2 linked regions of the Homo sapiens genome follow. The protein of the gene in region 2 purifies or fractionates together with the protein of the main gene of each other region. This does not show direct contact. Each region holds a gene or a part of one and is shown on either strand. Other genes may lie near its edges.

Region 1 (3,822 bases), on a different chromosome or scaffold from region 2:
TCTTCTTTTTTTTTTTTTTGGTGAGATGGAGTCTTGCTCTGTTGCCCGGGCTGGAGCGCAGTGGTGCAATCTCGGCTCACTGCAACCTCTGCCTCCCAGATGCAAGCGATTCTCCTGCCTCAGCCTCCCAAGTAGCTGGACTACAGGCATATGCCACCACACCCGGCTAATTTTGTATTTTCAGTAGAGACAGGGTTTTGCCATGTTGGCCAGGCTGGTCTTGAACTCTTGACCTCGTGAACCGCCCACCTTGGCCTCCCAAAGTGTCGGGATTACAGGCATGAGCCATCACACCTGGCCTATAACACCCTTTTTTTTTTTTTTTTTTTTTTTTGATACGGAGTCTTGCTCTGTCGCCAGGCTGGAGTGCAATGGCGCGATCTCAGGTCACTGCAACCTCCGCCTCCCGGGTTCAAGAGATTCTCCTGCCTCAGCCTCCCGAGTAGCTGGGACTATAGGCACGTGCCACCACACCTAGATAATTTTTGTATTTTTAGTAGAGATGGGGTTTCACCATGTTGGCCACGATGGTCTCGATCTCCTGACCTGGTGATCTGCTCACCTCGGCCTCCCAGAGTGCTGGGATTACAGGTGTGAGCCACCAGGCCCAGCTATGCATTCTTAATGGAAGCAAAACCACGCTAATGGGAGTAAAAACGGGGGCGAAGGAAGGGCAAAAAGTAATCATTTTATGTATAAAGCACAGATACATACATTACATACATACAGACATACAATAATCTGTAGTAGTAAATTTTCACAGGCAGAAACTAGGAGGAAAATGCCTAAAAAGGCTGTTTAGGGGAGTAATAATGAAGAGAGTAAGAAATATTGGAATATAATTAAAATCCTAGCCTCAGCCGGGCATGGTGGCTCACGCCTGTAATCCCAGAACTTTGGGAAGTGGAGACGGGCAGATCACCTGAGGTCAGGAGTTCTAGACCAGCCTGGCTAACATGGTGAATCCCCATCTCTACTAAAAATACAAAAATTAGCCTGGCATGGTGGCAAACACCTGTAATCCCAGCTATTCAGGAGGCTGAGGCAGGAGAATCTCTTGAACCCAGGAGGTGGAGTTTGCAGGGAGCCAAGATCACACCATTGCACTCCAGCCTGGGCAACAAAAACAAAACTCCGTCTCAAAAAACAAAACAAACAAAACCTAGCATCTTACTAAACATCCATCACCAAATGAGATTTATCAAAAGATCCATATGTAGGACAGCAAACTAGGAAAATACCAATGCACCCAATAGCATGGCATGACTGCATGAATTAAGGTATGCAATGTGGTTAAACCAACCAATCTGCTTTTAACAAAGGGAGTTTTTATCTTGGATGATGGGTATAAGCACCCAACTTCCTAAAAGCTTACAACAGATGAAGCTAAGGTTGACTAATATAAAAAGAATGTAGTTTAATCAGTAGCAAAAACACCTAAAATCTCAAGCAACTGAGGATCTTGGATCTACAGATTAAGAAGAGTGAGATTTATGTTTGGCCCATTATTTGCAGTTTATATATCTCAGTTTTTGTAATCTATTTTCATAGTTATAAACCAACAATATAAATCACATGTTGCCAATTCCTGACTCTAGGAATAAGGATTTAAAACCTCTTGAATAATTATAACCCCACCAATTAAACGTAAATTCCCACAGCATCTCTAGTTGTCCTGTTTTATTCTTTACAGACCATAAAAAATTACCATTATTAAAACTTAAAGTAGCTGGGTGTGGTGGCTCACACCTGTAATCCCAGCACTTTGGGAGGCCAAGGCGGGTGCATCACGAGGTCAAGAGATCAAGACCACCCTGGCCAACATGGTGAAACCCTCTGTCTCTAACTAAAAATACAAAAACAAACAAAAAACAAAAACAAACAAACAAAAACAAAGATAAAATTATCAGGCTGGGCGCAGTGGGCTCAGTGGCTCATATCTGTAACCCCAGCACTTTAAGAGGCTGAGGTGGGAGGATCATTGGAGCCCAGGAGTTTGAGACCAGCCTGCACAACATGGCAAAACCCTGTCTTTACAAAAAAAAAAATACAAAAACTTAGCTAGGCATGGTGGTATGCGCCTGTAGTCCCAGCTACTAGGAAGGCTGAGGTGGAGAATTGATTGGGCCTGGGAGGTCAAAACTACAGTGAGCCATGATCATGTTACTGCACTACAGCCTGGGTGACAGGGCAAAACACTGTCTTAAAAAAAAAAAAAAAAGTTGGGTTGAGTTTCACATAAAGTGACACTTTGCCATAGAATTACTTTATATTACAAACTAGATTTCTTAAATAGCAATGAAAATAGTATGTCACTTAACAAAAAGTAATTTTTTTTTTTTTTGAGAAAGGTCTGGCTGTGTCACCCAGGCTGGAGCGAGGTGGTGCGATCTCAGCTCATTACAACCTCTGCCTCCTGGGCTCAAGCTATCCTCCCACCTCAGTCTCCCAAGTAGCAGGGACTACAGGTGCACACCAGTATGCCTGGCTAATTTTTATATTGTCAGTAGAGACGAGGTTTCACTCTGTTGCCTAGGTTGGTCTCCAACTCATGAGATCAAGTGATCTGCCTGCCTTGGCTTCTCAATGTGTGGGGAATATAGGCATGAGCCACCCCACTGGCTATAAAAAGTAATTTTAAAAATAGTTAGGCCAGATGCGGTGGCTCACACCTATAATGCCAGCACTCTGGGAGGCCAAGGCGGGTAGATCACCTGAGGTCAGGAGTTCGAGACCAGCCTGGCCAACATGGTGAAACCCAGTTTCTACTAAAATACAAAAAATTAGCTGGGCGTGGTGGCATGCGTCTGTAATCTCAGCTAATTGGAAGGCTAAGGCAGGAGTATCGCTTGAACCCGGGAGACGGACGTTGCAGTGAGCCGAGATCCCGCCATTGCACTCCAGCCTGGACAACAAGAGCAAAACTCCGTCTTTAAAAAAAAAAAAAAAAAAAAAGGCCGGGTATGGTGGCTCATGCCTGTAATCCCAGGACTTTGGGAGGCCAAGCTGGGTGGATCACGAGGTCAAGAGATTGAGACCATCCTGGCCAACATGATGAAACCCCGTCTCTACTAAAAATACAACAATTAGCTAGCACATGCCTGTAGTCCCAGCTACTCAGAAGGCTGAGGCCAGAGAATTGCTTGAACTCGGGAAGCAGAGGTTGCAGTAAGCAGAGACTGCACCACTACACTACAGCCCGGTGACAGAGCACGACTCCGTCTCAAAAAAAAAAATTTATATTACCTGTTACATCTTGAAAATGAACTGATATGATAGATATGGTATTTGCATATGTTTAGAAAATGTCCTTCATCCAACTTTCACACTACATTTCAATATGCTTAAGGGACAACTTACTACATTTATACAGCCCTCAGATCTCATAATCTTACCCTTCACTGAGAGGGACTTAACAATCTCGATCCAGGCAAAAGAGAGAAAGAATGAAGAAAGAAAGAAGTGATAAAAGACAGAAAAGAGAAGTAAAGTGAAAGAAAGATAGTATGAAAGGTAGAAAAATGCCTGGATTTCTGAAAGTTAGTCCTATTCTCTCTAAGTAGGAATAGTGATCATCACTGGGCTGTCACAGGTTAATATAAAAATTGCAAAAGGCTCTCTAAAAAAGACTTTGTCCTTAGCTGTTAACATTAATAATAATAATAAATGCCTGGCAGTAGTCACTTTTTAGAAGTAGTCACTTTTTAGAAGCAAGAAGGAAACAAGGATTTGGGTTGCTGGTCCAGAAGGTCTTTATTTGCATTTTTAGAAAAAGTATTCACTAATTATTTCTGTAATTAAAAATTACCAACCTGTATTGGT
Region 2 (3,822 bases):
TCACGAGGTTAGGAGATCGAGACCATCCTAGCTAACACGTGAAACCCCGTCTCTACTAAAAATACAAAAAAAAAAATTAGCCAGGCATGATGGCGGCGCCTGTAGTCCCAGCTACTTGGGAGGCTGAGGCAGGAGAATGGCGTGAACCCGGGAGGCGGAGCTTGCAGTGAGCCAAGATTGCGCCACTGCACTCCCGCCTGGGCCACAGAGCGAGACACCGTCTTAAAAAAAAAAAAAAAAAAAAAAATTCTAAGGTTAAAAAAAAAAGTAAAGTTTTTATGTCCATTCACAAAAAATTTTGAGGAAGCAACTGCTGTTTTCCCAGTTGAGAGTCATAACATTCCCTATCTATGGTCCCCACAGGCTGCAGTGGGAGGTCATCCAAGGCTGCCTCTGTAGCTAATAACCTATCAGAAGACCTTAGGATATAAAACCATCCACTCAAGTGTTAGGAGGAGACAGTTTTTATTTATTCACTGAAAGTAAACAAGAAATATTAGATGAAAAAAAGCACAGACACTGAAGGAATTGCAGTCCAGCAATTTATTATTATTATTATTATTATTATGGTTATTGAGACAAAGTCTCACTCTGTCCCCCAGGCTGCAGTGCAGTGGCACGATCTTGGTTCACTGAAACCTCCTGGGTTCAAGCGATTTTCCCACCTCAGGCTCCTGAGTAGCTGGCACTACAGGCGTGCGCCACCATACGCTGATTTTTGTATTTTTAGTAGAGATGGGGTTTCACTATGTTGGCCAGGCTGGTCTCAAACTCCTGACCTCAGGTGATCCACCTGCCTCAGCCTCCCAAAGTGAGCCACCGTGCCCGGCCACAGCCCATGATTTTTAAAGTACCCATTATGACAATCCAAATTGTAGCTCTTACCCGAACACAGTGAGTAACAAAGGAGTCGATACAGTCCTTAGCCTGGTGATTATTATATAGGTAGCACCTGCAAGATAACAGTCACATCATTAAAATCTATTCAGCCCAAACAAAAGCAGCAGCAATTACTGCAGATGCTACCAAATGACAGAGAAGGTGAATAAAAGAGAAAATGGAACCGATACCTAAGTTAAAGAATTTCAGTATTAGATTAAGAAATATTTTACAATTATTATGTAATTCACACAATAAATCTGTGATATTTCCAATTCCTATAGGTCTATATTTGAACAATCAGAGTTGGATCCAGTAAGATCAAATTAGCAAAGAGAAAAGGAAAAGTCTAAAGCTCTACTTTTTCATGACCCTACTTCAGTGTCACATATTTCCCTACAATTGATTTCCTCATGGACTGTGCTCCTAATAATAATCACAAAGAAAATACTATACAGGATCCTAATTTTTTCTGTATCCCCACTCCTCACCATTGGTTATAAATCACCTATACCTCCCTTTGGCACGTCATCTCTTCTCACAAAGTGGTTTCCTTTACGGTGTTCCTTATCTCTGATTAACAGAGTCAAGGTCACACAATGGCAAAGACAGTGCACCCAGCACCCAGGAGAAAGAAAAAAGGTCAACACCTGGAACAGGCAGTTGGTGAAATGGGAAGTGCTGAAGGTTCATTACATCTTTAACCCTAAAGCAAGAAAATTACTTGAGATTAAAATAAAGCTTTTAAAAGGCTCTTTAAAAGCTTTAAAAGGCTCTCTCAATCTAAAAATGATTATTTTCAAATTTAAAAATTCAGTAGAAGAAATATGTTCATTAGTAGCCTTGAAGATCAAGAGGAAGAACTTTCTCACAACACAGCAAAAATAACAAGGAGATGACTGTCATGAGGCATAGGTAAGAGAGCTCTAGAAGACCCTAGTATGCTAGGAGCTCTAAAAAAGGAAAAATCAAAACAGATGAAGGTGAAGCAATAAATAAGTAATAACAGGGACAAATGATCTGACTAAAAACCTGAGTCTTTAATGACTGAATTCCAGATAGCACTAGCTGAAAATCACACATGAATATTCTGGTAAAACTTCTGAACTCCTAAAATAAAGAGAAACTCATCAACGCTTCAGAAGAAGTTTCAAATCACTTACAAAGGAAAAGAGGATTCTCATCTATAACACTGAAAGTTTTAAAACAGTGGAACAACTAGACTACCACACAATAAAGTTTTCCATATATACAATTATCATTATTTGTGGTATTTATGTTCCATAAAGTTTCTGAAGATACTAAATTAGACTATTAAATCATTGCTAACATGGGAAATAAAGGGTTAGATTCCTATGAGTCTCTGGTCACAACATTTCCATGCACTGATCAATGAATAACCTTATTTTATGTGTATTTCTGTTTAAGACACCTCATTTAATGGATTAATATACTGTTGATTTATTAACATCAAACTCATGACCCAATAGTGTATACCAAATGTGAACAGGCTGAATTCTGCTTTCAAAAGATTTGAGCTAACAAAAATTACACCACCATGTAAAAGAAACATATTAGGCCGGTGCAGTGGCTCAAGCCTATAATCCCAGCACTTTGGGAGGCCAAGGTGGGCAGATCACTTGAGGTCAGGGTTTGAGACCAGCCTGGCCAACATAGCGAAAGCCCATCTCTACTAAAAATACAAAAATTAGCTGGGCATGGTGACATGCACCCGTGATCTCAGCTACTCAGGAGGCTGATGTGGGAGAATCTCTTGAACCTAGGAGGCGGAGGTTGCAGTAAGCTGAGATGATGCCACTGCACTCCAGCCTGAGCAACATTATGTACATGCAAATACTTCAAAAATCCAAAAATATCAGAAATCTAAAACACCTCTGGTCCAGGGCATTTTGGATAAAAGATACTCAACATTTATTATGAAATATTTGGCAGCCATTACATATAATTAATTAGATCTACCATGAAGTAATTTGTGATAGAAAGCCATCGTGTATCTTTCAGTGGAAAAAGATACACTGTTAGGTGTATCTTTTTTTTTAACAAAGTGTAAGTGCTTTGTTAAGAAATGATGACTCCTTTCTTCCCTTCCCTGTTGGAAAAGCCTGACATTTCTCAGAATGCCAGCTTTCAAATGATGATTCTTTCTGCATGCAATCCTTTCAGCCTCTGATGGCAGCATGTTTTCGGGGCAGTGCCTCTACTACGGCAAAGTTTAAGGACTTACGCTGGAGACAAAAAACTTGGAGTTATCAGAAATTTTGTCAACCTCATAAAAACCTTAGTTTTAATCTAAACAATGTGGCAGAGATCAATTAATTTTAACACTATTAAGTTACTTTACATGGAGATTTGGTCCCAATTTTGATACTTTGGCTATAAAGAAGGAGTACAGAGAAGTTGGGCTTTTAAAGGAGCACATACATACAACTCTAAAATGTCTTACAATACTTACTTGGGGGAAAGCACCGGAGGACTGACAAAAGACCGAAGTGCATCTTTCACCATGTCTTGCATGAGATGAGTTCCAAAGACCTTTTTGTTATCCACCAGGAAAGTGGTCTTAAAACAAATGTTATATATTAGTTACGGTGTCACGCACAGAATTGTCATTAGTGTAAAATCAGTATACTTATAAATGCCACAGACTACGCAAGTGATTAAAATATAAAAAGTTTGTGAAAATTTTTTATAAGTTGCTGTCTCCACAATGAGTGTTACTTATTAATCCTTACTGAAGGTGAATTCTGATGTAGGATAAAAAATGTACAGAAATAAAAACCTCCCAAGAGTAGTAATATTAAAATAGTCAAAATAAACTGACTAATCTGATTATGTCAAATGAGCTAATGTATTAAAAAATGCTTCATAAACTATGAAATAGTAAATGGCTATACATGTTATTTGATAATCCTGTTTACCTCT

The links.
Region 1: the proteins of NAA35 (region 2) and LARP4 fractionate together in Homo sapiens (co-fractionation; one large-scale study listed by BioGRID). This does not show direct contact.

What each region holds. Positions count from the first base shown.
Region 1 is NC_000012.12:50,456,335-50,460,156, reverse strand, and holds part of LARP4 (la-related protein 4), read right to left. Parts: exon of another isoform or gene 3,729-3,822; intron 3,587-3,728; exon of another isoform or gene 3,371-3,586; intron 1-3,370. UniProt on the Homo sapiens protein: RNA binding protein that binds to the poly-A tract of mRNA molecules. Associates with the 40S ribosomal subunit and with polysomes. Plays a role in the regulation of mRNA translation.
Region 2 is NC_000009.12:86,006,995-86,010,816, reverse strand, and holds part of NAA35 (N-alpha-acetyltransferase 35, NatC auxiliary subunit), read right to left. Parts: intron 3,460-3,822; coding exon 3,353-3,459; intron 953-3,352; coding exon 886-952; intron 1-885. UniProt on the Homo sapiens protein: Auxillary component of the N-terminal acetyltransferase C (NatC) complex which catalyzes acetylation of N-terminal methionine residues. N-terminal acetylation protects proteins from ubiquitination and degradation by the N-end rule pathway.